7 linked regions of the Homo sapiens genome follow. Changing the gene in region 1 together with any one later gene gives a genetic interaction. Each region holds a gene or a part of one and is shown in the gene's direction. Other genes may lie near its edges. The genes, in order: ETAA1, CCNDBP1, CHORDC1, TNFRSF10D, PPM1B, ANXA9 and ETV1.

Evidence for each region.
Region 2: changes in ETAA1 (region 1) and CCNDBP1 are lethal when combined (synthetic lethality), as found in Homo sapiens cells (one large-scale study listed by BioGRID).
Region 3: changes in ETAA1 (region 1) and CHORDC1 are lethal when combined (synthetic lethality), as found in Homo sapiens cells (one large-scale study listed by BioGRID).
Region 4: changes in ETAA1 (region 1) and TNFRSF10D are lethal when combined (synthetic lethality), as found in Homo sapiens cells (one large-scale study listed by BioGRID).
Region 5: changes in ETAA1 (region 1) and PPM1B are lethal when combined (synthetic lethality), as found in Homo sapiens cells (one large-scale study listed by BioGRID).
Region 6: changes in ETAA1 (region 1) and ANXA9 are lethal when combined (synthetic lethality), as found in Homo sapiens cells (one large-scale study listed by BioGRID).
Region 7: changes in ETAA1 (region 1) and ETV1 are lethal when combined (synthetic lethality), as found in Homo sapiens cells (one large-scale study listed by BioGRID).

What each region holds. Positions count from the first base shown.
Region 1 is NC_000002.12:67,406,952-67,410,558, forward strand, and holds part of ETAA1 (ewing's tumor-associated antigen 1), read left to right. Parts: intron 1-2,959; coding exon 2,960-3,087; 3' UTR 3,088-3,607. UniProt on the Homo sapiens protein: Replication stress response protein that accumulates at DNA damage sites and promotes replication fork progression and integrity.
Region 2 is NC_000015.10:43,191,903-43,196,381, forward strand, and holds part of CCNDBP1 (cyclin-D1-binding protein 1), read left to right. Parts: intron 1-840; coding exon 841-901; intron 902-2,512; coding exon 2,513-2,559; intron 2,560-2,824; coding exon 2,825-2,939; 3' UTR 2,940-4,479. UniProt on the Homo sapiens protein: May negatively regulate cell cycle progression. May act at least in part via inhibition of the cyclin-D1/CDK4 complex, thereby preventing phosphorylation of RB1 and blocking E2F-dependent transcription.
Region 3 is NC_000011.10:90,212,476-90,216,954, reverse strand, and holds part of CHORDC1 (cysteine and histidine-rich domain-containing protein 1), read left to right. Parts: intron 1-1,724; coding exon 1,725-1,781; intron 1,782-2,779; coding exon 2,780-2,937; intron 2,938-3,534; exon of another isoform or gene 3,535-3,599; intron 3,600-4,479. UniProt on the Homo sapiens protein: Regulates centrosome duplication, probably by inhibiting the kinase activity of ROCK2. Proposed to act as co-chaperone for HSP90. May play a role in the regulation of NOD1 via a HSP90 chaperone complex. In vitro, has intrinsic chaperone activity.
Region 4 is NC_000008.11:23,139,807-23,144,285, reverse strand, and holds part of TNFRSF10D (tumor necrosis factor receptor superfamily member 10D precursor), read left to right. Parts: intron 1-4,479. UniProt on the Homo sapiens protein: Receptor for the cytotoxic ligand TRAIL. Contains a truncated death domain and hence is not capable of inducing apoptosis but protects against TRAIL-mediated apoptosis. Reports are contradictory with regards to its ability to induce the NF-kappa-B pathway.
Region 5 is NC_000002.12:44,174,892-44,179,370, forward strand, and holds part of PPM1B (protein phosphatase 1B), read left to right. Parts: intron 1-4,479.
Region 6 is NC_000001.11:150,980,476-150,985,665, forward strand, and holds the start of ANXA9 (annexin A9), read left to right. Parts: upstream 1-1,816; 5' UTR 1,817-1,904; intron 1,905-2,011; 5' UTR 2,012-2,108; intron 2,109-2,614; 5' UTR 2,615-2,630; coding exon 2,631-2,705; intron 2,706-2,862; coding exon 2,863-2,959; intron 2,960-3,499; coding exon 3,500-3,594; intron 3,595-3,805; coding exon 3,806-3,919; intron 3,920-4,110; coding exon 4,111-4,201; intron 4,202-5,190. UniProt on the Homo sapiens protein: Low affinity receptor for acetylcholine known to be targeted by disease-causing pemphigus vulgaris antibodies in keratinocytes.
Region 7 is NC_000007.14:13,979,375-13,983,853, reverse strand, and holds part of ETV1 (ETS translocation variant 1), read left to right. Parts: intron 1-4,479. UniProt on the Homo sapiens protein: Transcriptional activator that binds to DNA sequences containing the consensus pentanucleotide 5'-CGGA[AT]-3'. Required for olfactory dopaminergic neuron differentiation; may directly activate expression of tyrosine hydroxylase (TH).

The sequences.
Region 1 (3,607 bases):
CTTTTGCAATTACAAACAATACTCCAGTAAATATCCTTCTGCATAAATTTCCGCATGCTTGTATAATTGTATCTGTTAATTCCTAAAAAATTGCTACAAGAGGAAGTTTTAAAATTTGATGGATACCACCAAATTTCTATCCGAAGCAGTTATACCAATTTATCTTATCAAAACTTACAGTAAATAATTCTCTACACCCAAGGGTGTCCAATCTTTTGGCTTCCCTGGGCCACATTGGAAGAATTATCTTGGATCACACATAAGATACACTGACACTAACAACAGCTGATGAACTAAAAAAAAAAAAAAAAAAAATCACAAAAGAATCTCATAATGTTGTAAAAAAGTTTATGAATTTGTGTTGGGCTGCATTCAAAGCCATCCTGGGCTGCGGGTAGCTTGCGGGCTGCGGGTTGGACAAGCTTGCTTTACATGATAGCCCAAACTAGATATTTTGAAATATTAAAAATTGTTCTCAATCTATAATAATTTTAAGTATTTAAATTTGTATTAAAGTGAGCATATTGTAACTAAATCAAGCATGTTCCTAGCATGACTTTATTTACAGATAGAGTTGACCCTTGAACAGTGTGGGGGTTAGAGGCGCTGATCTGATTTGCAGTCGAAAGTCTGTGTATAACTTTTGATCCCCTAAAAACTTAACTGCTAATAGCCTGCTGTTGACCAGAAACCTTTCCGATAACATAATTAATTAATACATATTTTGTATGCTCTTATATGTATTATATACTGTATTCTTACAATAAGCTGGAAAAGTGTTATTAAGAAAATAAGGAAGAGAAAATAATATTTACTATTCATTAAGTGAAAGTGGATCATCATAAAGGTCTTCATCCTCATGATCTTCATGTCTAGTAGGCCGAGAAGGAAGAAGAGTAGGAGTTGGTCTTGCTGTCTCAGGGGTGTCAGATGCAGAAAACAACCTACAAATGAGTGGACTTGCCAGTTCAAGCCCATGTTGTTCAAGGGTCAACTATAGTTATAATTCTATAAAAGACTAAACCTCCTGGAGTATTTGAGTTTTCCCAAAACTCCTATCTACCAATCTATCTGCATTTTTTATGGATAATCTGCGTTTTAGCTTACCTTATCAATATTTTCTTTAAACTTATTGATAGTACTGAATCTCTTAATTACTATTAACTTTGTTGATGTTTTCTATTGTTTCTACTTCCTTTTACTTTGGTATGTAGCAAGCTGCTCTCCAGGGAAGTATCTCTGAAACAAAACTCACTTAACTCCCACATTTATTTCAGGCAGGAGTTGGCAAACTATGATCTGTCCAAATCCAGCCTGCAGCTTGTTTATGTATAGCCAGCACACTAAAAATGATTTTTACATTTTAAATGGTTGGAAAAAAATTAAAAGGAGAATAATATTTCATGACATTTGAAAATTATATGAAATCCAGATTTCATTGTCCATAAACAGGTTTTATTTGAATACAGCTCATCAGTTATTTATACATTATCCATAACTATTTTTGCTACAGTGGTACAGGTGAGCAGTTGCAACAAGATACTCAAAGGTTAACATTCTTGCTTTCTGACTCTTTCTTTACAGGAAAAAAAAAAATTACTGACCCTTGCACTGTAAGATCAAGATTAAGAAGAGCAGCTTTTGCTTAGTACTTTACAATATTTTAAGACTTCATTGTGTATTTTTATTATAGATTGAGTTAAAGGAAAGACTGATGGGAAAAATGGATGAGTCCCTAAATCAAATTTTCATGGTGTGACCTGATTATCATTTGAAATTATTTTCTATAATATTGCCAAGCAAATTGTAAGACCAACTTTAGGAAGTTATGTTTTCTGCTGTTACAGATTATTAACCTGTTTTCTTTCCACACAGTCAAATTCAGTGTAAAGTCTTTGGATGTGTAGTCTGAGTTTGTTGTGTTTCTCAGCTTTGAGACTAAAAGTATTAGATAATTAGTCAAGCTAATTAGAAAGTATCTTCTGGTGTCTCTCTTTAGGAAAAAATATCTACAGTCTGTTAGGTAAATAGCTTAGGAAATAAAAGCCATCAAAATCATCTGGGAAACTTATTTAAAATATGTATTTCTTAGCCTGAATACCCCCTCCCATTTCTGATTATACCAAGAAAGGAAAGGGAGGCAGATTATATATTTTGAAAATGCCTCTGTTAGTTAACAAGAGAAATGTCTCATAAATTGTGTATCTTTTTCTAAATGTCAGAATAAATGATATACTTAAATATGTATTAGGGTGATAGTCTTAAACTTAAAATATCATTTAAATGAGAAAGTGATTTCTAATACAAAGCCTCAACTTACTAAGTTAATTGAGATTATTTTAAAGTTTCTCCAAAATGCATCCTCCAAATAAAAATATAATTTCTGACAGTGAATCACAGGTAACCAGTTTGACATGACAGATTTCATTTTATCACTCTAAAATATATTTCCTCAGTGGATGAAATGAAAATTTTATAGCTCTATAGGGAAAAGTAGATGTGAATATTAATATAACATCTTATGTAAATATACACTGTTTGAGATTGATAACTAATTTAATTCCTTATATTTTGACTATTTTCCAATTAAAGTTTACATAACATTTTAAATCCCAATGTATCCTTTTTAAAGATATATTTATTCGTGGGTCATATAAATTAGATGTCATTGTCCACAAGAATTATTTGGTGGGTAGTCAGTTTTCTATCAAACTGAATTTTATCACACTGTGAAAAGAATGTATCAAATAGAGACAGATCCATCAGTGCTTGATTTTCTTTTGAACTGGAGCATTATATCTGTATTATGTACTTAGAATTTTATATTCAGTAGTTTAGTTTGATTTAATAGCCAACTAATATGGCAAATCTGGGTGATTAAAAAAAGCAAAAATTAAAGCACATATTGAATGACTTTATAGGCTATAAAAGTAAAACTCATCTTTTGTTGAATTTTTAGAGGAAGAAGAGAAAAATAGAAAGTGTTCTCCTGAAGAAATTCAGAGAAAAAGACAAGAAGCACTGGTTCGGAGAATGGCTAAAGCACGAGCCTCATCTGTAAATGCAGCTCCCACTTCATTTCTTTAATGAAATATTAGTTGGAAGACTTCACGAAGACTGCTGATAACTATCTGTGATTGATAGGAAATTTTTTTTCTTGATTTCTCTGTGAGAAATGTAATGCTGACTTTTATAAAGCCTGGACTTCTACTTTATTTAATAAATCAATGTTTGCAATGGTAAATGAAACATTTCCTTGGACATGTATTTGAAAGTCATTAAATACAAAAGTTTTGGAAATTCAGGAAAGTTAGCAATTATGTACGGATATTATACAGAGGAAAGTAGTTATATTTTTAAATGCTATTATTGCAGAGGATCATCAAAAAAGAGGTAATCTACGTTATTTCCTATTCTAATGTCTTTTCCTAATAAAAAACTTCAACTTTCTAAGTTAGTAGAGACTGTTTTTGTAGTTTTACTTTCATTAACTGTTGCTTAAGGTTTTTATACACTTCCAGATTTTAATTAATACTTTCATATTTCTAGGAACATGGTTGATATGAAATAAAGGACTTTTTATTTGTAAGGAAATTATGTTCAGTTC
Region 2 (4,479 bases), on another chromosome or scaffold:
TATTCCAGAATGTTTTGAGAGTAAATTGCAGACAGCAATGACATTTCACCCCTAAATACTTCAGTATGTATCTCCTGAAGTACTCTTATTCCTACTCTTATTATCACATCCAAGAAATTTGACATTGAATATAATAGTATTATCTAATATTCAGATTTCCCCAGTTGTCTGTATCTAAAATGTCATATAAATTCAGGGTTCTGTCAAGGTCCCACATTGCATTTAATTGTCATCTCTTTAGTCTCTTGAAATCTAGAACAGTTCCTATCCTTTGTAGTCTTTTTTAATCAACATTTTAAAAAGAAACCAGGACAGTTGTCTTGTAAAATATCCAACAACCTGGATTCACGTGATTGTTAGTTCTCATTTTTGCAAGAATATCATATAATTAAGTGTTTTGTACATCTCATTTTATCATATTAGGGAGGCACATGATGTTGGTTTGCCTCATTATTGGTGGTACTAAATTTGATCACTTAAAGTGGTGCTCACTTTAGTAAAGGTATATTTTACTCTAATTTTAGCTTCCACTGATGAAGGCTGCCTGCCTATATTAGTTATTAAACTGATGGTTTCACATCCTCACATTTTTGACTGAATTGATCATGCACCCTACTATGAACCAAGGGAATTTCCCCCCCAGCTTCCTAGTGAAATGGGGTATGGTTGTTTCAATAAAGACTGGTTGAACTCATTCTGTATTGGTTGCCCAGTTGCCCAATTTTAAAAACTGACAGGCATTTCTGGGACAGTTTCTCACTGTTGACATCCATAGTTGTGTACTAGAAACAACCTGGCTGCGTTTTTTTGTTAATGATTACTTTTGTTTTCTGCTCTTAGTGTGGATGATTTGGCTCTGAGCATATATCCACCTATGTGTCACCTGACCGTGCGAATCAATGTAAGTACTGGCTTTGAGGGAATAGCTACAGAACAAATGGGCAGAATTTCACTAATCACTAGTATTTCCTGTAAGCTATAGGGTACATATTTATTAGTCACATTTGGATGGAAGTACAACAGTAATGTCACAGTTCTTGCATGCGTTTGGGGTTGATAAATATTCACTGAAGTTGAATTATAATAGCCATGAGCTTTGGTAGTTCTCTCTTCCATAATCACCTGGGTAATCATTCAGAAAAGCCCAAAGGCCTTAGAAAATGATGCTTTAAGGCTGGGCGCGGTAGCTCACACCTGTAATCCCAGCACTCCAGGAGGCGGAGGTCAGGAGTTGAGACCAGCCTGGCCAACATGGCGAAACCTTGTCTCTACTAAGAATACAAAAATTAGCCGGGCATCATGCACCTATAATCCCAGCTACTTGGAAGGCTTAAGCAGGAGAATCGCTTGAAGCCGGGAAGTGGAGGTTGCAGTGAGCCGACATCGCGCCACTGCACTCCAGCCTGAGCAACAGAGCAAGACTCTGTCTCAAAAAAAAAAAAAAAAAAAAAAAAAAAAAAAAAGCTTCTTTGAAAAGAAAGTCTTAATTACACGGTAATTTAGGAACTTCTCAACTTGAAGTCACAAGTTTCTAATTTCTAGACTAGGCAGCAATTAGATTGAACTTCAGCTGTTCATGAAGTAGCTGGCTGAGGTCACATGTTTCTGATTTCTAGACAAGGCAGAAATAAGTGTTCCAGAAACATACTCTGTTCTAATACAAACACATTGTGTGATTTAACTATGGAGAGTCAACTTTCTTATAAAAATCTGATTTTATTGTATTCTTTGAGGTTCTGTGCCCTTTACTAGAGAGAGTTCTGTTCTCTCTAATGTTATTGGAAAGAGCAGTAAAACTGCCAAATGGCTTATATTTTACAATTGAATGTATCAATTCTAGTAATATTTGATAAATTGGATAATGGAAATTAGATTCATCAGATGTGTCTTCATGATGTATAAACACCTTGAAGTAGAATAGGATCCTTTTGGGCATTAACATTTTTTTGGCATTAACTTTTAAAAAATTGACTTCCTAAGAAATAAACATTTTTAGCAATATGCCTAGTCAGCTATCCCAAACATAGTATCTGCTCTAGCAATTTTAAAATGTGTACTGCATATGCATCTTATATGTATTGATATTTTATATTAAACGTCTCCATCTTATCCTTATATTGGTGTTCTTAAAATTCTTAATGCGCTTTTTTTTTTTTTTTTTTTTTTTTTTTTTTAAAGGAACCTTAGTCATTTCTGCTTTATATTTTGAGCTATCAGCATTTGGGACCAATTCAGGTTACATTTTCCTTTTTCTGTCCTTTTTTAAATTGAAAATATTTTAGATCTAAAAAATCTTATTAAAATGTTATAGCAATAGTATTAATAAGATCTTGCTAAATAGAAAAGAACCCGTAATCCTGCCACCCTAACCTAATCAGCATTTTAAATTTTGCATACTTCCTTCAGGTCCTTTTTCTAAATAATTTTTTTATTACTTGGGTCTTTAAAAATATTTGAACTCACCTTTTTATGGTAGGGCTCAGGGTGAATAACTTCTGTGTTTCTTTTCTAGTCTGCGAAACTTGTATCTGTTTTAAAGAAGGCACTTGAAATTACAAAGTAAGTATGAAGACTTCTCAGATAGCTTTTTGTGAGTAAAACGGAACTGCTGTCCAGACGTTCTCAACTCCCTAGCTCCCATTTCAAGGAGTGGGAAAGGGTGGGTGTGGGATTTTCTTTCAGCTTCAGTTGTGGGGCAGCTGAGATTCTGCAAAGAAGCTTCCCTTTAAAAAAATTTTAGTTTTCCCTGTGCTCCCTCCTGAGGATAGGTTTTCCCTTGACATCCTAATAAGTTTAACTTACTTCTTTCCTATTCTATTCACAGAGCAAGTCATGTGACCCCTCAGCCAGAAGATAGTTGGATCCCTTTACTTATTAATGCCATTGATCATTGCATGAATAGAATCAAGGAGCTCACTCAGAGTGAACTTGAATTATGACTTTTCAGGCTCATTTGTACTCTCTTCCCCTCTCATCGTCATGGTCAGGCTCTGATACCTGCTTTTAAAATGGAGCTAGAATGCTTGCTGGATTGAAAGGGAGTGCCTATCTATATTTAGCAAGAGACACTATTACCAAAGATTGTTGGTTAGGCCAGATTGACACCTATTTATAAACCATATGCGTATATTTTTCTGTGCTATATATGAAAAATAATTGCATGATTTCTCATTCCTGAGTCATTTCTCAGAGATTCCTAGGAAAGCTGCCTTATTCTCTTTTTGCAGTAAAGTATGTTGTTTTCATTGTAAAGATGTTGATGGTCTCAATAAAATGCTAACTTGCCAGTGATTAAATGAGTGCCCTTCCAAAGTTTCTTTTTACCAGAAATACAGTGGATTGAGACTAGAACATTGCTTTCATTTGGGTTTGTAGGTTTAAAAATCTGATTCTAATCAGAAGTATATTTAGAACAAAACACTTTATTTATAAAAGATGACTCCAAAATTCATCTTAGTATTTCACCATGTTATATATTATTATCAGCAAGTCCTTCTGAATATTATCACAGATTACTCCATGTCTCTAAAATATATTGGCATTGAGCTCATTTGTTAGGTTTGCCCACCTTATTGAACAGATTTATTTTCCTTATACATACTTGTGTTGTCCTTGGTTACGTGTGTCCCCAAATGTAAATACCAAATTTTTATAAATCAAAAATTTTTTAGTGTGTAAGAGATTTTATGTAATTTTAAGGGCCTTTTCAGTTCATCCTTTTGCAAAACCATCACCACTTAATTATACTTTTGCATCAGTCTAGAAGACTGCATATTGGAAAGCAGTGTAAATCTATAATGATGTATATTCTGGTGAGCTGAATAGGGCATTATGCATGTCCTACAGGTCTCCGCCACCTCTCATGCCCATCATCTTCCTTTTGTAGGTGTAATTCATAACATATGCCTTTCTGCTGTCTTTAGGTATAATCAGCAACAGCAGTCATTCTTTGAGTGACTAATGTATACTTGGGGTTGGGGTTGAAATTCCTTAAGCCAAATGAGTTTTAGCTTACTGTTTTGAAGTGCCATTTTGTATTGTTAACAAGTGTCATGAAGGGAAGGAACTAAAATCAAACTGACAGAGTGTCAAGGCAACAAAATAACATAAACAAAATAATAACATTGTACAACAGTCTAGTTCTTTTATCCTTTCATATAGAGCCTATTTTTTATATACTTTTATATTTCTCTACTGGACCAAATTCATGTTATTAACATCAGACTTTAATTGTGGGATACTTAATGAATATAGAACTCTAATATAAAGACTTACCTCTAGCTGAATTATTCTCTCAGGTCCTGTATTGTATAACTTCGTTCAGTCATGTTTGGATCTTTAAGGATAATGATCAGGGAAAGCACTGATCAATGTAATTTTTTTTTTTTTTTTTTTTTTTTTGAGATGGAGTCTTGCTCTGTCCCCCAAGCTGGAGTGCAGTGGCACACTCTCGGCTCACTGCAACCTCCGCCTCCCAGG
Region 3 (4,479 bases), on another chromosome or scaffold:
ACTGTGTCTTTTTCTTTTTTTCCCTATGCTGTTTTCCTCTTAGCTCTTAAAGGTAACCTTTGGCTGTTTTCTCTCATTCAGTTCATTCATTGGTTTTCTCAAATGTCACCTCTACGCCGATGGCTCTTACAACATATTTCTATTTATGTGTCTCATTGGCAACATCAAACCAGTTTCTAGTGTGTACCGTTTATTCCAAAAGTAGTCTGCCTCTCAACTTTACTGCTCCTAGTAATGATACTACTGACTTTCTGATCATTTGGTCCATTGCCCGTTTTTTCTCTTACCGCATTGTTAATCACTCCAAGTCTTAATGAATTCACTTTGAAGTATTTTTGCTTCTCTCTCTTTTGCAGTTGTAGTGTTTATTGTGGTCTCTATTTTATAACCATTTCTTAAAGTCCTAGACTTTCCAAGATTATTGGATTTCACAGTCCAGAAGATTTCAGACAAAATGCGTATACATCAATACAGGGATACTAGTTGACCAAGTAAGAAGTTAAACATTGCATTGACAAAAGAAATACTATTTTAATATTAGAAGGGGCATATTCAGAGAAAAGGACAATCTTGCTGAAAAAAGACAACTAGCAACCTTATATTCACATAACTTAAATTTATCTTTCCTTTTCTCATTGTACTGAAGACTAGCATAGAATCCAGATTGGCATTTGGGAACAGCTGGCCTGTATTGTATTTTACATGTGTGTATCACAGTATCTGACATAATTTAGTACATGATTAAGACAGTAAAACTTTTTCTCTTATAGAATAACTTTTCTGTTGACTATATTATTGATGCTATTTAAACCCTATATTTAAGGTTGTAGTAATTGATCTACATCTCAATTCGGAGTAAAAGATAATTAAATTTCAAATTAAAGGAAAATTTGAATTATAGGATATTTGAAATTACCTTTAAAGAAAAAGAACCTACAGGTGCATATAATGAGAAAAATCACTACCATATTTTTATGCAGTCTTTTGAAAATCAGCGAGGTCCAGGCGGATGTGTGCAAAGTTGCATCTTAATCTGAATTTAGTCCCAAATCTTAATCTGAAGTTCCAAGTTTTGAGATTTTGCATTTTTGTTTCCCTATGCTCTATAAACATTGGAATTTAGAGATAATTATTAAAGCCATTTTTTGGTAAACTACTTGATAGTTTGTTCAAAAATCACAAATACTAATAGTTTCTCTGTCTTTATGCTTCTCACTGAAAAGATCACCTTCAAAGGCTTAATAGTGCTTTAGCTGCTGTGTTAATTAATCTTTGTTGTTCTGAAAATAGAATGCTTATTGTGAAATTAAAATTAACTAAAGATAGTTACTATCTTTAACTTAATAGATTTTAAAAGTAAAATACCTATACTTATTTTGAATATTCTTTAAATATGATAGTTTTAGGAATTATAACATGTTTTTCTTCTAAAAAAAAAGCAGACACGATTGTTGAAAAGAGAAACAGTTTTTGTTTTATAAAGGTGCTTCCCTTGATGATAGGGCATAGCACAAATCACTTTAACATTGGTTAATTGGCTTTTTAAAAATCAAAGATTAATATTCATTTTACTTGATTAGGTGAATTATATGCAACACTGAAATTTTGCACTCTATACGCAAGTTACTGCAGGATTCAAGTAGATAAGTGCAAGTAGAGTGTTTTAGTGGGTCGTGTTTCTCATGCAAATAGAGTTTTTAGTTTCCTTCTCTTGTTTTTCATAGGGTTGGTCTTGCTGTAAGAGAAGAACAACTGATTTTTCTGATTTCTTAAGCATTGTAGTAAGTACTAATTATTTTTTCTAGATTATCTTCCTAAAAATACATGTTATAGAAAGCTTCAGATTTGAGGAGTCTGATTTCTGATATAGATTGATTGGTCTTCATCAACTTGCAGATAACACCTTTCAAAAAGCAGCTCATCTCCCTTCCACAGCTTGTAAAATAAAGAATCTGTTTTGGAAATTAACGTTTTAAGGTATCAGTTACCTGCTTATCATTTTAGGTTTGTTCTTTCTGTTATGTTGAAAGAACATCAAGGAGAAAGTGGTAAGCAACAATTTAAAGCCTTTTCAGTTAGGAACGATAAAGTTTTATCTAAGATGCTGTTGAAATATTTTACATACCACTTTTATATAAAACCACTTTATATACCACTAAGAAAACTAAAGCTACTAACAAACTGATAATGCTATTGATTGTATCATTTCAGAGGTGTTAAAGAGTATGTATAATTCAGTAGAATGTAGTAGAAAAGTAGCTAACGTTTGTTGAATGTTATCACCTGCCAAATGTGCCAGGCATTTTATTATTTAACTCTCTCAGAAAATATCTTACCTGACATTACCTCCATTTTACAAATGAGGAGATGGAGGTTTAAAAAGATTATCTTGCTTAAGGTCATATAACTAATAAGTATGTTGAGAACTAGGTCTCAAATTGAGGCCTTTCGAGTAACAGATTTTTCTGTATAACTATTTTTTACAGTTCTTTGTGAGATTCTCCAGAATTCTTCTGTAAACAAGAGGTTTATGCCATATTTTTAATAGAATAAGTAGATGTTTATGAAGTGTAATTCAAAGACTTTTTAAAAAAGCCGTCATTCAGAGATTCAGCAAATATGGCAAATTTGGAGTTCTGTTTTTAATTTCTTAAAATCAATGTATTGAAACTGGAGAAAACATGAAATAGAATCACTATCAATAAAGAACTGAAAAGATAATATTTCTATCATGAAATGTAAAATAGATAGCTCTTAATGAATTATCTTTCACTAACAGGGCTGTACAAAAGGTAGACATAATAGTGAGAAGCCACCTGAGCCAGTCAAACCTGAAGTCAAGACTACTGAGAAGAAGGAGCTATGTGAATTAAAACCCAAATTTCAGGAACACATCATTCAAGCCCCTAAGCCAGTAGAAGCAATAAAAAGACCAAGGTATACTTTATACAGTTACATATTTTTGTCACACTTGAATAGTAGCACTTGTGCATGGTACTTTCCTTTATGATTTAGCATGATACCATTTGTAGCTACTATGTAGGCCACCAAGCTTTGAACCATTTGGTTTCTCCCTTAAATCTGCCTTAAATTTTTATTTCTCTTCAACTTGAGAGCATGTACACAATATAACTACATAACAGATTTGCATATTGTACTGTCATAATTACAGGGACATGTATCATCAGGGTAGGGAAGTCACATTTTTCTTGTGCCTTAGAGTGCATCTTTTTCACTGTGGCATGGTAAAATTCTTTGAAGCAGTTTTCCTTTTCATGGCATGAGTTTGAAGTAGAAAATAATGCAGAGGCCTAATCATCCATCTTTACTTTCAGATGCCTGAAAACTACCGTTAATCTCATTACTACTGGTCAATTTTTAATGCATTTGATTTAGATGACATATTTGTGAAAGTAGTCTTAAAAAAGCGTTTGCTCATTGTGCAATAGAGTTGTACAGATTCTTCATACTTGCCTTCTGATAACCAGACTCTGTATTCCCACACATGTATATTGAGTACCTTTGTTGAACCAGGTCTTCTTCGTGCTACACTTGAGTACTAAATTGTTTTAGAAGCAAACTACAGGACTTAAAAAAAGGTGATTTTTTTTTTTTTTTTTGGCTGCAAGTAGGCACTTATTGTAATTTTTATTCATGCTATGAACTCATGATTTTCCCTTTATTCTCCTTTGATCCTACTTAAATAAATTTATAGAGTATTGAATAATATAGAACCAAGATAAGAACCCTAAGAGACTTTAGATGTTTATTTGTTCATTAGCACTCTGAGTACAGATTATTGCTAAGGAAACTACTCAGGATGATTTTATTCTCTCTCCATCTTCATAGTTAGAGGAGACCATTGAATGCTTTGGCCAGTTTAGCAGTTAGAAAAATAATTGGGAAAAGACAAAACTTCAGTCATGGCTCATTCTTAATCTCTTTAGTAATATAATACAGTCTGTACTATAATAGTATGAGTTAATTTTTTCTTTAAATGATGGGCTGTTATTTTACTTAAAGGGCAGTGAGAGGCCAGGCACTGTGGCTCAAGCCCATAATCCAGCACTTTGAGAAGCCTAGGAGGGAGGATCCTTTGAGCCTAGGAGTTTGAGAACCAATCTGAAAGAGATCCTGTCTCTCCAAAAAAAATAAATTAGCTGGGTTTGGTGGTGTGCTCATGTAGTTGCAGCTACTCAGGCTGAGGCAGGAGGATCTTGAGATTGACTTTTTGAAAAAAAAGGACAAAGGCAGTGAGATGAGAAAAACTAAATATTTTATCCTAAATTCATTTGGTGGTATTATAACAATTATGAGGATATCAGTTTTTACATACTTTTCTTTTTTTTAAGAAGAAAAGTCCCTCTCTTACCCAGGCTGTAATGCAGTGGCATTATAGCTCACTGCAGCCTTTAACTCCTGGGCTCAAGCCATCCTCCTCCCTAACCCTCCCCGGAACTATAGGTGTATGCTACTATG
Region 4 (4,479 bases), on another chromosome or scaffold:
TGCCAGTCTGCAGGACATCTGCTTCTTACTCCCTGTCCTGTCCTTGCTGTGTCCCCAGAGCCTGGATCTCCACAGGCATAGAGTGGGTGTCACAGGGTTCACTGAGGACTGAATAAGGCTGCACAGTCTCCATCGTGTGCTCCTAACAGAAGTCAGGGAGCCCTTGCTTGAAACAGCGGAAGTTTTAAATGTTCTTCAAAATTCTTACTACATTGAACATATTTCACAGTAAATCTTTGTCCAGATTTCTGATCAAGTATGTAAGGAGGCTTCTGGGAAGAAGTAGGATTTCTGAGTCAGTGTGTAGAAGTGCTTTTGTATTACAGAAACACACACATCCAGTTATTCACATCGATTCACTAGTTTTGATATGACATTGAGTAGGTGTGAAATCTGGACACACATTTGTTTTTTTTTAAGTTCTTTCCTTCAGGATAAAATAAGATGATCCTACCTAATTTTTTGTGGACTTTTAAAGAATGATTTGGTTTGTAGCATACACCAGTGGAACGTAGGTGCCATTTCTTTTGTGATGCTGTGTGAAGTGAGGAATTCCCTGAATTGTTGTGAGTCACTGTCTCCTTCCTCCACGCCTGTTTAGGAACTGATTCTCCTATTTTTCTCTGCTTTTGGCTCCTCTTTGATCACTTGTCAAATACTTACCTAGACAAGGTTCACTTTCCACCCATTTTCTTCCTTTCCTATAACTATACCCCATTTTTTTTAATGAAGGGAAGTATAAAAAGGTAAGGAAATAAACAAAAAATATCAACAATTACTCCACGCTGCTGAATCGCATTGCACCTTTGTTTTGTAATTTGTAGAGATCTGATCTTGCTATGTTGCCCAGGCTGGTCTCAAACTCCTGGCCTCAAGTCATCCTCTCACCTTGGCCTCCCAAAGTGGTGGGATTACAGGCATAAGCCACTGCACCTGGCCGCGCTGCACATTTTTTGAAAGTGGTAAATGCAGAGCCACACATCTGCCACACTATAGAAAGGTGCTCAGTCGGCCGGGCGCCGTGGCTCATGCCTGTAATCCCAGCACTTTGGGAGGCCGAGGAGGGTGGATCACAAGGTCAAGAGATGGAGACCATCCTGGCCAACATGGTGAAACCCCACCTCTACTAAAAATACAAAAAATTAGCCGGGCGTGGTAGCGGGTGCCTGTAGTCCCAGCTACTCGGGAGGCTGAGGCAGGAGAATGGCGTGAACCCGTGAGGCGGAGCCTGCAGTGAGCCGAGATCACGCCACTGCACTCCAGCCTGGGCTACAGAGTCAGACTCCATCTCAAAACAAAAACAAAAACAAAAAAAAAACAAAGGTGCTGAGTCATAGTGGTAGTCCCCTAACACTTCCTCCAGCCCCCAGCCCTTCTTCATTCAGGTGAATACAACAGATAATTTCTTGTGATTCTTTGTAGAAATCTTTATGCATATGCCATGTATATTCATACAAGCGTATGTACATTTTGTTTACATTACAGGGATTACTTTACATATAATACACTGCCAAGGAAACTTTTTTTCATTTTTTATTTTTCCTTTTTCAAATTTATTTTGATTCAGGGGGTACATATGTAAGTTTGTTTGATGCTGAAATTTGAGGTATGAATGATTTTATCCAGGTTGTGGGCACAGTATCCAACAGTTAGTTTTTCACCCCTTCCTCCTCTCGCTCCCTCCCCGCCCTGGTAGTCCCCAGTGTCTATTGTTGCCATCTTTATGGTCGTAAGTACCTGATGTTTAGCTACTACTTATAAATGAGAACACGCAGTATTTGGTTTTGCGTTCCTACATTAATTCACTTAGGATGATGGCCTCCAGCTTCATCCATGTGGCTGCAAACAATATGATTTCATTCTTTTTTATGGCTGTGTGGTAACCTATGGTGTATATATGCCACATTGTCTTCATCCAATCCACTGTTGATGGGAACCTAGGTTGATTCCATGTCACTGCTATTATGGATAGTGGTGTCTTTTGGTAGAATGATTTGTTTTCCCTTTTTTTTTTTGAGAGGGAGTCTCGCTCTGTCACCCAGGCTGGAGTGCAGTGGCACAATCTCGGCTCACTGCAACCTCCGCCCCTCCAGGTTTAAGCAGTTCTCTGCCTCAGCCTCCAGAGTAGCTGGGATTACAGGCATGTGCCACCATACCCGGCTAATTTTTTGTATTTTTAGTAGAGACGGGGTTTCACCGTCTTGGGCAGGCTGGTCTTGAATTCCTGACCTCGTGATCCATCCACCTCGGCCTCCCAAAGTGCTGGGATTACAGGTGTGAGCCACCGCGCCCAGCAGATTTGTTTTCTTTTCTATGTATACCCAGTAGTGGGTTTGCTGTGTTAAATAGTAGTTGTTTTAAAATTCTTTGAGAAATCTCCAAACTCCTTTCCATACTGGCTGAACTAATTTACATTCCCACCAAAAGTATATAAATGATCCTTTTTCTTCATAGTCTCGCCAGCATTTACTGTTACTGGCTTTTTAATAATCGCCATTCTCACTGTATGAGATGGTATCCCACTGTAGTTTTGATTTGCATTTCTCTGATGATTCATGATGATGAGCATTTTTTCATATGTTTGTTGGCCACTTGTATGTCTTCTTTTGAGACATGTGTGTTCATGTCTTTTGCCCATTTTTAATGGGGTTGTTTTCTGTGTGTTCATTTAAGTTGCATATGGCTCCTGAATATTAGACCTTTGTCAGATGCATAGTTTGTAAATATTTTCTCCCATTCTGTAGGTTGTCTGTTACTCTGTTGATACTTTTTTTTTTTTTTGAGATGTACTCTCGCTCTGTCACCTAGGCTGGAATTCAGTGGCATGATCTCAGCTCACTGCAACCTCCGCCTCCCGGGTTCAAGTGATTCTCCCTCCTCAGCCCCCCTAGTTGCTGGGATTGCAGGCACGTGCCACCATGCCCAGCTAATTTTTGTATTTTTAGTAGAGATGGGGTTTTGTCTTGTTGGTCAGGCTGGTCTCGAACTCCTAACCTCAGGTGATCTGCCTGCCTCGTCCTCTCAAAGTGCTGGTATTATAAGTGTGAGCCCCCACACCCGGCCTGTGGAGAGTTTCTTCTGCTGTGCAGAAGGTCTTTAGTTCAATTAGATGCCACTTGACAATTTTTGTTTTTATTGCATTGCTTTTGAGGACTTAATCATAAATTCTTTGCCATGGCTGATGTCCAGAGGGGTGTTTTCTAGGTTTTCTTCTAGAATTCTTATAGTTCATGGTCTTACCTTTAAACTTTTAATCTACCTTGAGTTAATTTGTGTATATGGTGAAAAGTAGGGGTCTAGTTTTCGTTGTTCTGCATATGGCTAGCCAAATATCCGAAGCATCAGCTGTTGAATGGGGAGTTGTATTATTCCATTTTCATACTGCTATGAAGAAATACTTGAGACTGGGTAATTTATAAAGAAAAAGAGGTTTAATGGACTCACAGTTCCACATGGCTGGGGAGGCCTCACAATCATGGCCTGAGGTGAAAGATGAGCAAAGGCACATCTTACATGGCGACAGGCAAGAGAGCGTGTGCAGGGGACTGCTCTTTATAAAACCATCAGCTCTTGTGAGTCTTATTCACTATCACAAGAACAGAACTGGAAAAACCAGTCCACGTGATTCAGTTACTTCCAATAATTTTTTCCAATTCTGTGGAAAATGACATTGGTAATTTGATAGGAGTAGTATTAAATCTGTAGATTGATTTCAGCAGTATGCCCATTTTAGCCATATTAATTCTTCCAATCCATGAGCATGGAATGTTTTTCCATTTGTTCATGTTATCTATGATTTCTTTTAGCAGTGTTTTGTAATTCTCTTAGAGATCTTTCACATCCTTGGGTAGAGGTATTTCTAGGTATTGTGTGTGTGTGTGTGTGTGTGTGTGTGTGTGTGTGTGTGTGTCTGTTGTAAATGGGATTGTGTTATTGATTTGGTCCTCAGCCTGAACATTATTGGTATATAGATATGCTACTGATTTTTTTTCTTTTTGAGACAGAGTCTTGCTCTGTCACCCAGGCTGGAGTGCAGTGGCGCGATCTCAGCTCACTGCAAGCTCCACCTCCCAGGTTCACGCCATTCTCCTGCCTCAGCCTCCCCAGCAGCTGGGATTACAGGCGCACACTGCCACGCCTGGTTAGTTTTTTGTATTTTTAGTAGAGGTGGGGTTTCACCGTGTTAGCCAGGATGGTCTCGATCTCCTGACCTTGTGATCCGCCCTCCTTGGCCTCCCAAAGTGCTGAGATTACAGGCGTGAGCCACCGTACCCAGCTACGCCCCGTTAATTTTTGTATTCTTTAGTAGAGACGGGGTTTCACCATGTTGGTCGTGCTGGTCTTGAACTCTTGACATCGTGATCCGCCTGCCTCGGCCTCCCAAAGTGCTGGGATTACAGGTGTGAGCCACGGTGCCCGGTGCTACTGATTTTTATACATTGATTTTGTATCCTGAAATTTTGCTGAAGTCGTTTATTA
Region 5 (4,479 bases), about 23 Mb from region 1:
AAGCATTTATCTCTGAGGTGGGGAAATGGCATTTTCTGTTGAACACAGGTGGCCTTTCTTAGTCCCTTAAAAAGAGGACATGACTGGGCCTGGTGGCTCACGCCTATAATCCTAGCACTTTGGGAGGCCGAGGTGGGCGGATTGTCTGAGCTCAGGAGTTCGAGACCAGCCTGGCAGCACGGTGAAACCCCATCTCTACTAAAATACAGAAAATTAGCTGGGTGTGGCGGCATGTGCCTGTAATCCTAGCTACTCAGGAGGCTGAGACAGGAGAATCGCTTGAACCCAGGAGGTGGAGGTTCAACCCAGCTGAAATCGCGCCACTGCATTCCAGCCTGGGCAAAAGTGAGACTCCGTCTCAAAAAAAACAAAAGTGGGGGTGGGGGAACATAATTAATTCAAAGCACTCCAAATGTTAAGATTATATAGGAGATTTTGTTGAGCTTTGGGAGGCTTTCTGCTTTTATTTACTCTGAGCTACCAACCCACTGAGAAGTAAAGAATTCAGAACAGTCTAATAGTATTTAGTCTGTAACCCTCCAGCCAATTCTTATGTTCACTGAGTGCCTTCTGTGTGCAAAGGCCCCCATTTCATGCCAGTATCTGAACAAAACAGACAAAATCCCAAATCCTTGTCGTTGACGATCTTGCATTCTGTTAACCAGCAACTCACAGTTTACATTACAGCTGAACTCCTTATGTGGCTGGCTTAAAAACTTGAGTGGAAGATTTGGGGTGTGTGTGTTTTGTACACTAAACTTAAAAGCTGTGATTAGAGCTTTACTATTTTTAACAAAAGGAAAGGAAGAGGTTTTCTGTAATTGGATAAAAACTAGACTGAAAAGAGGAAAGAGGAAATATTGTTGTGCCTTAGAGAAAGACATTGGTTTGAGATTTTTTTTTTTTTTTTTTGAGACGGAGTCTCACTCTGTCACCCAGGCTGGAGTGCAGTGGTATGATCTCGGCTCACTGCAACCTCCGCCTCCCAGGTTCAGACAATTCTCCTGCCTCAGTCTCCCGAGTAGCTGGGATCACAGGCATGCACCACCACACCTGGCTAATTTTTGTACTTTTAGTAGAGATGGGGTTTCACTATGTTGGTCATGCTGGTCTGGAACTCCTGACCTCATGATCCACCTGCCTCGGCCTCCCCAAGTGCTGGGATTACAGGCGTGAGTCACCATGCCCTGCCTGGTTTAAGATTAAAAGATGACCCAAAGAGAGAAAAAGAGATCCCTGCATTAGACAGACATGAGGGAAATTTGGGGCCTTCAGGTGTTTCCATTTACTGTACATCCTTGGATAGATGAGTTCCTGGAAAGGAGGATGGGAGTAAAGGTGGAACAATAGGAGAAGGGTGAACAGGATTTTTTAAGTCTGATTTAAATAATTGGGATATACCTATAAAATATATGTTGTCATTTATGTTTAAAAAGCTTTCTGTTCTTACGTGAGTATAGCTGAAGGATTAGTGGTTGACCAATAGTGCCTGGTACTGATTTGTAATGGCTACTTTTGTGCTCTTAGCAAAGATGGCTAATGGAGCCAATTTGTCTCTTGGTTTATTGTGCACAACTTGGTCTATATATTTATCACTGCTTCTCCTTCCATAGCTTTGTTGTATTACTTAACGTCGTGCCTTTGTTTTTTCTGCATGTGAGATGGGCGTATTGCACTTAGATGTGTGAAGCAGGTGCTTAATTTTTGCTTTCTGTTCTTTCTATTGCTTTCCTACTGAACCAGTTTGGTAAAGAGGCCTCTTCTTCAGTTTATACAAACATTGCAAACTTAAGCATAAAAGATCTTTCATCTTTTTGTTCTTATTTTAATGCTTGGTGGTCTTGTGCTTTCATTTATGAGTCAGTTTCATTTGATCTTCATTGCTAAAGTGAATCAAGATTGATTTTTTTAATTTTAAAGCAAATCAACCAACTGGCTGGGGTGCAGTGGTGCAATCTCGGCTCATTGCAGCCGCCACCTCCCAGTTCAAGCGATTCTCCTGCCTCAGCCTCCCAAGTAGCTGGGATTACAGGCCTGCGGCACCACGCCCAGCTAATTTTGTATTTTTCGTAGAGACGGGGTTTCACCATGTTGGCCAAGCTGGTCTCAAACTCCTGACCTCAGGTGATCTGCCCGCCTCAGCCTTCCAAAGTGCTGGGATTACAGGCATGAGCCACCGTGCCCGGCCTAGTTTCATTTTTAATGTATTTTTGTAATTCTGTTACTTTATCAAAATGCTGATATGCAAGAGAACTTGAAATTTTGGAATATATTAAATTTAGTACTGTAATTCAGACCAGATTCATTAAGTTGTTCAACATTTGGCCATCTATCTTAGATTTAAAAATAACCAAAAACAACCTTACTTGAATTTAAAAAAATTATCTCTTGTAACTGGTTTTGTTTATATAATCTAACATTTTATTAAGTCTTTGGTGGTTGCTAGTCCTAAACTTAAGGAAATTGAGTTTGTTTCTATTCATCTGTTCTGGAGTGTTTGGAATTGCAATGTGAAAGTGAAATAACCTTTTTTTTTTTTTTTTTGAGACGGAGTTTTGCTCTTGTTGCCCAGGCTGGAGTGTAGTGGCATGATCTCGGCTCACTGCAGCCTCCGCCTTCAGGTTTTAAGTAATTCTCCTGTCTCAGCCTCGTGAGTAGCTGAGATTACAGGCACGTGCCACCACGCTCAGCTAATTTTTGTATTTTTAGTAGAGACAGGGGTCTCACCATGTTGGCCAGGCTGGTCTCGAACTCCTGACCTCAAGATCTGCCCGCCTCGGCCTCCCAAAGTGCTGGGATTACAGACATGAGCCACCGCGCCCGGCCTACATGTATGTATTTCTAAATAGCATATAGTACTGTTTTAAGAGGTGTATGTACATGACCATATACAGAATTTTTTTTTTTTTTACAATTTGTTCTTGTCACTTAATATTTTTGCAGTTCTTTTTTTGTTCTAGTCCCTTTTTTCCATAGTATTGCATATATATTGCATAGTATTCCATTGTATGATTAGAACAGTTCTTTTTTTTTTTTTTTTTTTAATAAGACAGTCCGGCTCTGTTGCTCAGGCAAGAGTGCAGTGGCTCAATCTTGGCTCACTGCAGCCTTGCCCTCCCAGGCTCCAGTGATCCTCCCACCTCAGCCTCCCAAATACCTGGAACTACAGGCGTGCACCAACACATCTGGCTAATTTTTGTGTTTTTTTTGTAGAGATGAGGTTTCACCATGCTGCCCAGGCTGGCCTCTAATCCCTGAGCTCAAGTGATCCACCTCCTTTGGCCTCCTAAAGTGTTGTGATTACAGGCGTGAGCCACCACAGGCAGCTAGAACACATTTTGTCTAGTCTTTTTTGGAAGGACATTTGGATTATTTTTGTAATTTTAATCAATGGTCTAAAACCATTTACATGCCATATATATATGCGAGAATTTCTCTAGGGAGTAAAATGGCTGAACTGTAGGCCATCCTTATCTTATAGCCCTAACTAGATATTTCCAAAATTCTCTCCAATGTTGCTATACTAATTTATACTCCTACCAGTGGTGTATTTTATATATGTATATATATATATATATATATATTTTTTTTTTTAGACAGAGTTTCGCTCTTGTCACCCAGGCTGGAGTGCAATGATGCAATCTTGGCTCATTGCAACCTCCACTTCCTGGGTTCAAGCGATACTCCTGTTTCAGCCTCCTGAAGTAGCTGGGATTACAGGCACCTGCCACCACACCCAGCTAATTTTTTTGTATTTTTAGTAGAGATGGGGTTTCACCATGTTGGCCAGGGTGGTCTGAACTCCTGACCTCAGGTGATCCTCCCGCCATGGCCTCCCAAAGTGCTGGGATTACAGGCATGAGCCACCATGCCCAGCCAAAAGTTTCTGTTGTTTTAATTTAGTGCTGTCCTATATAAATGTAAGGTAATTTAAATTTTTCTAGTAGCCACATTAATAAAAAAGACATAGGCAAAGTTAATTTTAGTAATGTATTTTATTTAATCCAGTATTTCCAAAATGATTCAATATATAAACAATGAAGTTAATTAGATATTTTGCATTCTTTTAAAAAATATTAAATGGTGTGATTGGGCTGTGTCCCCACCCAAGTCTCATCTTGAATTCCCAGGTGTTCTGAGAGGGACCCCATGGGAGGTAATTGAATCATGGGGACAGGTCTTTCCTGTGCTGTTCTCATGATAATGAGTAAGTCTCATGAGATCTGATGGTTTTATAATGGAGAGCTTCCCTACACAAGCTCTCTCTTTGCCTGCTGCCATCTATGTAAGATGTGACCTGCTTCTCCTTGCCTTCAGCAGTGATCATGAGGCCTCCCTGGCCACATAGAACTGAAAGTCCATTAAACCTCTCTTTCTTTTGTAAATTGCACAGTCTTGGGTATGTCTTTATCTGCAGTGTGAAAAAGTACTAATAAATTAAATATTTAAAATCCATTGTGTATTTTACACTTACAGCAA
Region 6 (5,190 bases), on another chromosome or scaffold:
TCTGATTAAGCTGCATGTCCTGTATATTTATTTATTTAATCTAATACCCCTACTTTACAGGGCACTTTTCTCTGCCACATGCAATTACACAGATTACTTTTTTTTTTTTTTTTTTTTTTTGAGACGGAGTCTCACTCTGTCGCCCAGGCTGTGGAGTGCAGTGGCGCCATCTCAGCTCACTGCAACCTCTGCCTCCCAGGTTCAAGTGATTCTCCTGCCTCAGCCTCCCGAGTAGCTGGGATTACAGGCATGCGCCGCCATGCCCGGCTAATTTTTTGTATTTTTAGTAGAGACGGGGTTTCACTGTGTAAGCCAAGGCTGGTCTCGATCTCCTGCCTCATGATCCACCCGCCTCGGCCTCACAAAGTGCTGGGATTACAGGCATGAGCCACCGTGCCTGGCCACATTACCTTATTTATTTATTTATTTATTTATTTATTTTTATGAGTTCAATAGTTTTTGGGGACAAGGTGGTGTTTGGTTACATGGATAAGTTCTTTAGTGGACACATTACTTCATTTAATCATCCCAGGAAACCTGTCCTCGGAGGCCCCAGCATGTCCCACAGCCTCCGTCTCTCTCAATCCTCCCATTTAGAGAGCTGAAAGGACTAGCGAAGCTTACAGAACATAGGTGGCAGAGCTGGATATTGAACCCTCATTCTCCAGTTCTGACACAGGTGCATGTTTTCCTTTTAACAGGAGAGAAAAGTGAGGAGCAGTGATTACCGCCACAGAAATATCCTTTCATGGCGTGTCCTCCGGCATGGTCTACTCAGTGTGGTGGAGCCACTGCAGGTCCCTCCTCCAGGGATGTAGGAATGCCAGTGAAGGCCTTCCTGAGTTGGGAGAGAGGCAGAGGAGTGAGTGGAGGCAGGGCTGTAGCTTCTGTGCCCCGCCCCTACCCAGGCTCTCCAGGGAGGCAGGAAAGAGGCTGTGTTTAGACCTGAGGGAGCCAGCTGTGAGGCTGGAGCAGTTGCTGCATGGCGGGGCGGGGGCTCCACAGGGCTGTTCACCTGCTGCTCTGTGCAGAGACAGCCTCAAGTCCAGCTGCTGGGGTTGCATCACCTGCAGCTAAAACAGCCACAGGGCCCAGGCTGCCAAAAGGCAACAGAAGCAATCTAAGAAACCAGGCAAGGGAGCCTCCCCCATCTCCCTGTTGCCTTTTGGGAGCATAGAGCTTCCCTCTGAAGGTAACACCCTTTGCATTTTTCTCTCTTGACTCTGTTCATCAACTTCCACTCCCAAATACTTGTGCCCTTCCTTCTCCACAGATATACACAATCCCTGGGCACTCTCCACCTAGGTCAGCTGGCTCTAGTAAGGCAGCAGTCAAGGGAGTTTCTGGGCTGGGACCCCCTCTGGGGTGCAGGCTGGGGTGCCCTGCTGGTATGTGCCCCAACAGGTTTTTCCCTATCAGCCTTGAAATCAGCCTGCAGCCTGTCTGACCTGCCCCCCAGGGAGCTGGAGCCAGAGGCAGAGCCAGGTCAGAAGCTGGGGCAGAGCCAGGTCAGAAGCTGGACTTTGAGACTAGGTCTCTGTGGTCCCACCTGGACCCACAGGGAAGGCAGTGCATAAAAGCCTCCTGTGTTTGAGGCTGAGCCGCTGAGAGGCTGAGTGGAGTTCACTCACATGGATTGAGGCCCAGTTCCTGGGAGAAGAGATGCTGGGCAGGAAGGTGTCTGCATGTGGGACTCTGTACAGCCCGGTCCTCTCCCACGTCTGGGAGGGGCCAGAGTCAGACAACTGCTGGGTTCGTCCCTAAGAGAGGTCATCTGACTGGCTGTTCAGCCTAGGCTGCACACACCCCCACTTTCCTCTACCAGGCCACACCGGAGGCAGTGCTCACACAGGCAAGCTACCAGGCCACAACAACGACACCCACCTCACCTCTGGCACCTCTGAGTAAGTACTGGGCCCACGGCCCCATGCCAGGAGGGCTTGTTGATTGCTTGGGGGAGGGAAAAATGAGTTTTCCTTTTCCAACATGAGAGTGCCTCCTTTCTGTCCAGGCATCCACGTACTTGCAAGAACTCTTGCTCACATCAGCTAAGAGATTGCACCTGCTGACCTAGAGATTCCGGCCTGTGCTCCTGTGCTGCTGAGCAGGTAGGCAGCTGTACAGGCAGGAATTGAGGGTTGCTTGTCAGCTGGGGCTGCCGGTGGGGGAAGATGCTATTTCGAGTTGTCTTCCACTCTGCGTGGTTAATCCTGCCACCTCACCTCAGCTCCCCTGCACTGCCCAGGAGACCCCAGCCAGGCCCAGGAAGGAGGGCCATAGACCTCAGAAGGGAGGCATCTACCGCGGACCAAGGCCTGAGGAGCTTTGGTGCTGACCCTGGCATCAGGGAGGGTTGGCGCCTGGTCCAGGAGCATTCCGCATCAATCCCCACTTCCTAAAGGAGTGGGGAGAGGTGGGGAAGGTGGGGGCTCCCCTCTTACCTCACCATTTCAGCTCCATTTCTGGCTCCAAGCCTAAGCAGGTTGATCTTTTTTTCTGCAGCAAGGAAAGGAACAGGTGACTGGAACCCAGGGTCCAGGGTCTCGGGGGGGTCATAAGGAGTCCCTGAAGGGCCAGGAAATTCAGCTCTGTGGGCTCCTGTTTCCTTCCCCAGGGCAACCAGTAGCACCATGTCTGTGACTGGCGGGAAGATGGCACCGTCCCTCACCCAGGAGATCCTCAGCCACCTGGGCCTGGCCAGCAAGGTAGGGGCTGTTGGGATTTTAGAGATCACTTTTAGTATCTCAGCTCGGGCTGTGAGAGGATGGGAGGCAGGAAAGTGGAGGACAGGCCCTGAGGTTATGCTGAGGAGGTGTAGGCAGCCTGGCCCTGGCCCTTGCCAACTACCCTGTGCTCCCACAGACTGCAGCGTGGGGGACCCTGGGCACCCTCAGGACCTTCTTGAACTTCAGCGTGGACAAGGATGCGCAGAGGCTACTGAGGGCCATTACTGGCCAAGGTGAGCCCCTTTCCCCCGGCACTTGAGACTGCCTTTTAGAGCCAATCTGTAGACCAAGGAGGAGCCAGGAAGGAGGAACTAGTGATGTTGGAGAAATGTTTGTGGAATGCCTTCATTCTTGTATGTCAGGCGCCACAGTAGGTGTGTCAAACCCATTCTCACAACACCCCTGTGAGGCAAGGCTTATTATTTCCATTTTCCAGATGAGGAAACTGGGGCTCAGGGAGATTAAGAGGCTTGCCCAAGGTCACTCAGCTCATGACGGAGGTGGTATTCTCATCTAGGTCAGCCGATCCCCCCAAGTCGTATTTTTTTTTAACCACCACACCAGGCCACCTTTGCCTTGGTCTGGGTCAGATTTGCATGCTGTTTTGACATTTTATTTGCAACTTCTTTTGAGATAAAATGGAAGTGGGGGTGATATAGCCCCTGCTCCTTTCCTTCCCAGCCCTCTCCTGGAGCGCCTTCCCTCCTCCAAGGAGTAGGAACATCCCACTATGTAAAGACCCTGCTCACAGCACAGCCCTCATCTCGGTTCAGGCGTGGACCGCAGTGCCATTGTGGACGTGCTGACCAACCGGAGCAGAGAGCAAAGGCAGCTCATCTCACGAAACTTCCAGGAGCGCACCCAACAGGTGAGGCCATGCTGACCTCCCACAGCAGTGGACTGGGGTGAGAAACCCCCTGGAGGACTCGAGAGACAGCAACAGCCGCTGAGGCCAGCCCCTGCTTCCTGGCTAAACAGGGCCTGAGATGAAAACCAGCCAAATCTTCCCAAACCTCCCCACACTTCTGGGGCCCTTCCCCTCACCCCCGTCCCTCTGCTGTGAGGACCATTTATTGTAGGACCTGATGAAGTCTCTACAGGCAGCACTTTCCGGCAACCTGGAGAGGATTGTGATGGCTCTGCTGCAGCCCACAGCCCAGTTTGACGCCCAGGAATTGAGGACAGCTCTGAAGGTAGCAGGAGGGGAGACTTGCTGGGGTGTCTGGGGAAGGGAGAAGGCTGTCAGCCTTGCTTTTGCAAGACGAGAGTCCCCCTCTCGTCGTCCCATATTGTTTCTTAGAAGGAGAAGCAGCCAGCGTCTGCCCCTCTGTCTGCCATCCTAATGACACGGCCAGTCTGAGAGTAGACTCCCAATTTCTTGTAGGCCTCAGATTCTGCTGTGGACGTGGCCATTGAAATTCTTGCCACTCGAACCCCACCCCAGCTGCAGGAGTGCCTGGCAGTCTACAAACACAGTAAGAATATAGAGGGAGGGGTCCCAGATGCTGGAGAAGGGGCTGTAGGACAGGCCACTCCTCTCCTGTACTCCCCATAGGTGAGCTATCTGGCAACCTGGCTGCCTAAGTTCTATTCCCTTGGGGTCTTTCCTCTTGCCCCCACCAGTGCCTCAGTCTCTCAGGGGAGAGACCCAGATGTGATCATTAAAAAAAGAGAAGCAGGCCAGGTACGGTGACTCATGCCTGTCACCCCAACACTTTGGGAGGCTGAGGTGGGCAGGTCACTTGAGCCCAGGAGTTCAAGACCAGTCACAGGCAATAAAGGAAAACCTCATCTGTGCTAAAAATTCAAAAAAACCAGCTGGTCATGGTGGTGTGCGCCTGTGGTCCCAGCTACTCAGGAGTTTGAGGTGGGAGGATCACCCCAGCTTGGGAAGTTGAGGCTGCAGTGAGCTGAGATCGTGCCACTGCCACTGCACACCAGCCTGGGTGACAGGAGTGAGAGCATGTCTCTCTCTCTCTCTCTCTCTCTCACACACACACACACACACACACACACACAAATAAAGAGAGAGAAGCAATGATTAACCATCTTAATCTGGAGCTCCAAGGCAGATTCCAAAGTGACAGTCCCAAAGGTACTCATGTCACCTTCCCAGCCCCTTGCCATCCCTGCCATCACACCACATTCCAAGCTGAACCCAGCCATGCTGCAGCCTGAGGAAAAGGTGGGAATCTGCCCTCTGAGTCATGGGTGTCACCTTTCATGTCCCTGATGGCTGGCCTTGCTTGGCTACAAGTGTCTCACCCACTAATTTGTGGCTTTTTCCCATCCTCATCTTACCACCCCTTCCCCCCACCCCTACCTCTTTTTCTTGCTTTCCCCAATTTTCCTTTGATGTCTAATCTTGGCCTATGTTCTTCTTTTGAGACAAGGTCTTGCCCTGTAGCCTAGGCTGTGCAGTGATGTCATCATGGCTCACTGCAGCCTTGACCCTTCTGGGCTC
Region 7 (4,479 bases), on another chromosome or scaffold:
GTCCTCTGTAAAAATATACTTGCATTCTACCAAGAAAGTTAATTCCCATACAGAGATTTAAATATGTTGGTGGAGAATATAACTTTACATTAATATCATTTCCCAAGAAATAACACTGCAATTTAAAGGTTTTTTTTTTAACATCTAAACACAGTTTAAAACAATTATCTTATTCTGAAGAAAACTGCAAAGTTAATGTTTTCAGTAACCACAGTAGTTAAAAAAAAAAAAAGTCAGGGAATATGCCAATTTTAAAATGTTGCCATAGTCACTTTATGTTATAATTTTACTATGTGCAATTCTTTATTGATTCTTTGTCTTTTAAATTAGACTGCTACTGACAGAAAGGCAATTGCAATTATTTGATCCCATGAAATAATGAGTTTAAATATCAATTCTATCAACATCATGGTGATGTCTTATTCTTAACAACCTGAAAGTCATAGTTAAAATGGAACCTCTTGTGTATCCAGAACAAAAATAGAAAGATGTAAAAAATTAAGACAGGATTGTATTCTTCCAAATTTGCTTCTTAAAGCTCACCTACTAACACAACTTAAAGGGAAATAATAATTTTCAGTATATATCTGATGTAAATGTGTAGCTGCTCTCTTGACTGTTATTTTGTTTCCGGTCTAGATGTTCTTTCAGGTTCACTTTCATCAACAATATTCTCTGTCTTCAGGGTAAAATGTTTTCCAGTGGTTTTGTATTGAGTCAAGTTTAGTGCTGCCTCCACACTTCGAGTAGGAGTTTTATCTGCAAGAACAACCTTTCTACAGCAAAGCTTATTACATCATACGAATAAGGGTTTTTTCCTTTTGGTTTTATGTGACCTTCAAACAACAGTCAGGTCAACTTAAAAGCAGAGATGTCATTACTTTCCCCTCAATTCGCTTTAATGGCTGATGGTAAATTTATATTCAAAATCATAAGTAATATGTGCTATTGTTACTTACTATGTGTAATGTCATCCACAATATACAGTAGTCATAATACACTCATTTTTATTTTTCAGAAATCCTACTTTTTTTTAATGGAACATAAAATTGGTTATGTGCTCATGAATTATTTTCCCCCACTTGGTGCAATAAGGATTAAAGGCTTTAAAAACGACATTATTTTATGTGGTTTACATAAAACATGAATTTAGAATTAAGCATTGAATTACAGAACTCCATATAATCTCTTATAATTGAACAACAATAATTTCATGTGTGTGTGGGCGGGGAGAGGATGGGCTATCACCCCTCTTTTTGATGTGCTAGAAAATAATCTAAAATATGAGAGAAAGACTTCCCATTTGAGTTTGACTTAAAGACAGCAGATAAAGTATATTTTATTTCTAAACATTCATTGGAATTGCATAAATGTTTTTTCATCCATGTTTTATTTACAAAATAGAAATTTTTTTTAAAAATAGAAAAATAGGATTTGGTGTAGTATAGTGTAGTTTTTCCAGAGGATCCTAATAAATAAAATATTGCTAAGCTTTTCTATTTCAGTTATAGGAAATGTGCAGTTTGTTACATTTTGTAGTATAACTTTATTCCCTTTGATTTGTGTATAATGTTATAATAAAAAATAATAATAGAGTCAGACCTCTGTAGCATTAGAGAAAATATTTGGCTAGAAACAACGGCTAGTTGGCTCTGAGCTTCCCTTAAGTTTTCAAGTTACTGCAGGTCAGTTTTAGTTAGGAATTGAAGCTGATTTGACACAACGACTAAAACTTTACTGTTACAGTAAGAATATAGAAATATGGAAATAATGCCTTGATCAAGTATTAAAGGTGTTTTGTCATTGGAAAGTTGCCTCCTTTTTGTATGTTTAAATATGTTTATACTTCTGCATAATTAATGCTTTTACATTTGTACAATCATTTTAATGTTAAAAGTGGATGTGGTATAAAACCAAGCTTAGTGGACTCATGATTATTTTGTTCCATGGCCTGTAGCTTCAATTTAGGATTAAACAGCATACCACTGTAGGAAGGTGGATTTTTCTTTTTTTACTTCTTATTTGAAATAAAATTTAAATTTCTCATGAGAAATTTGTTTCTAACTCTTTGATTCAAAGAGAAATGCTACAAAGTTCAGCAAACAATCTACAGTATTCTTATGATAAAAATAGTTGGATAATAGAAAAGAAAAATAAGGCATTTCCGTAATGGTTTTTCTTTTCCCTTTCTTGAAACCTTCTTTGCATCTTTCTGTCTTTTCCTTTTTTCTTCCTTAGTTTTATACATGCAAGTTTCTGTAACAAGTTACTCTGTAAAGCAGGATGCATGTATGTATTTGTGTGTGTGTATATATATATATGTATGTATGTATGTATGTATGTATGTATGTAACTTTGTAAACGTCATTTATTTAAATGTGTTCCTTTAATGGATCTGAGCTCTGAGACAGAGCAATAAAATTGGTGTGTTTATATTGCAAGTCCAAGTTTACTTGCTTTAGCTCCCTGGAAGGGTGTGACATGAAAAGATTGTGGTTGGGCCACATGGCTCATATGCTGGACTGTGTTTTTGTGAATGGAGGCAGAACTCCAGTTCTGCCTGCTTGTCTTGAGGAATTGCTGAGGAGATCAGCTGTCTCATTCACGGGCAGAAAGAATGACTCATACATCTTCCGCCTTGTTTGGCTCCAGGTCATTGTTACAGTGGATAGAACTGGTTTTAATTAAATATTAACCCCTTTTATACTTGACGTTTGTTTTATTTGTAATTCTTCCACTTTTTCCTTAGCTTTAAAAAAAAACCCAACAGGCACATAGTTTGTAAGAATAGGAGGGTTTTCGCTTCCCTGCAGCCAACCTTGGAAACTTTTTCATCGCTTACTTTTTCTTAAGTAATGATTATTATTTCATTTGAAAGTTAAAAATAAGCATAACATAAAGGCAAGCTATATTTAAAATTACCCATCTCTAAGGCAATATTAGTTAAGAAAAGTATTAAAATTAAAAAGGAGAATTGGTGAGTTTGTGACATATAGGTCATGATTAATATTTTTATGAATTTCTTTCTGATAATATGCATTGATACGTAGCAAAAAGACAGAAAACAGTAAAACAACTTTGGATAATAATCTAGGTAAAACAAATAGCTGAGAGTGCAGATACTGCCCTTTTAAAGCCGACATCCTGAGACTTGATGGCAACTGGTCTATTAACGTGCAATGAACTGATAGAGCCGCTCCAGCTATTACCAATAAAATCCACATGCTTAATCTCCTTGAAAGCATTTTATTGGTCTTTTGGTATATACTTTCTCCCCTTCTCCTTTCCTCCTCTTCCCCTTCGTCTTTAATTACATAGTGTGGGGAAACATTTTCATTCCCCAAAGGTGATTATATCCAGCACAGTTTATAATAGATAGTAGTGGAAAAAACATTGCTTTTTTAGGCTGACCTCTATTGTTAATTTTCAACTTTGGAGTTGGTATGGCTTGCTGCAAGTTTTCAGGCAGCTGCAGTTTGCTCCTTCACAGTATTCCCCTGAATTGAAGAAAAAAGGAAATGTATGATACAAGTGTGGCAATACTTTGTCATATTTTCCTTGCCTAGATCCAACTTGTGTTTTTAGTTAACTGCTTTCCGTTTACTCTAACTTGAAATTAGAGGTATACTTAAGCCTTTGTCTATTTAAGTAGCATGCTGCTTCGTTTGGTCTATTCAGTTTCTTAAGATTAGCTTCTGTGAAAATGTGAGTCATATGTTTTTTGTTAAAATTCTGTAATATGTTCAGGAATAAGTGTGAAGTATTTATTCAGTATGTTAAGGAGTTAGAACAGAAATAGGAATTCTTATTCTTACTCTTTACAGATTGTTATCGTGCAGCTATTTTCTGTATATTTGCGAGGTATAACTTCTAGATTATTCTACTCCTAAAATTTGGCCCTTTTTTCCTCACACATATTCCAGCACACATCACACACCCATCAGTGAGTCTGTGCTGCTCTTGCAGTGACATATATTAGGAAGTTGCAAATCTGCTTACGATGCTACAAAAACAAACAAAAGACCTTTAGAACATTCATACCATCATATTCAGTTACAAGTATACTTTTGTTACTCACCAGCTATTTTTAACTTTTCCTGTAAAGGGATATTATATTTTTATTAGATTCTTATAAATGTTGGCTTTTTAAAAGCCCAGTAATTGTTGTGGTTGATATATTTGCATCTCAATAGTTATATCTGTTTAGCTGTTAATTCTGAGGGAAAACCAAAACAATGATATAATGGGAAAAATGTGCAGGATTTGAATCTGTGTACTTGCTGTTATTTATTAAATATATATTTAAAACACTTGTAATTTTTTTGATATGAAGACTTACTTGAAAGCACACCCTTCGCCTTGTAATTTATGAATCTTTTAGAACATTTTTTTCTGCAGTGTCAAAAAAATATGTTGTGTTAATAGCTGAGAGAATGCTAATGTACAGATTTTAGCTGTTTCGTTGCCTCTCTAGTAGAC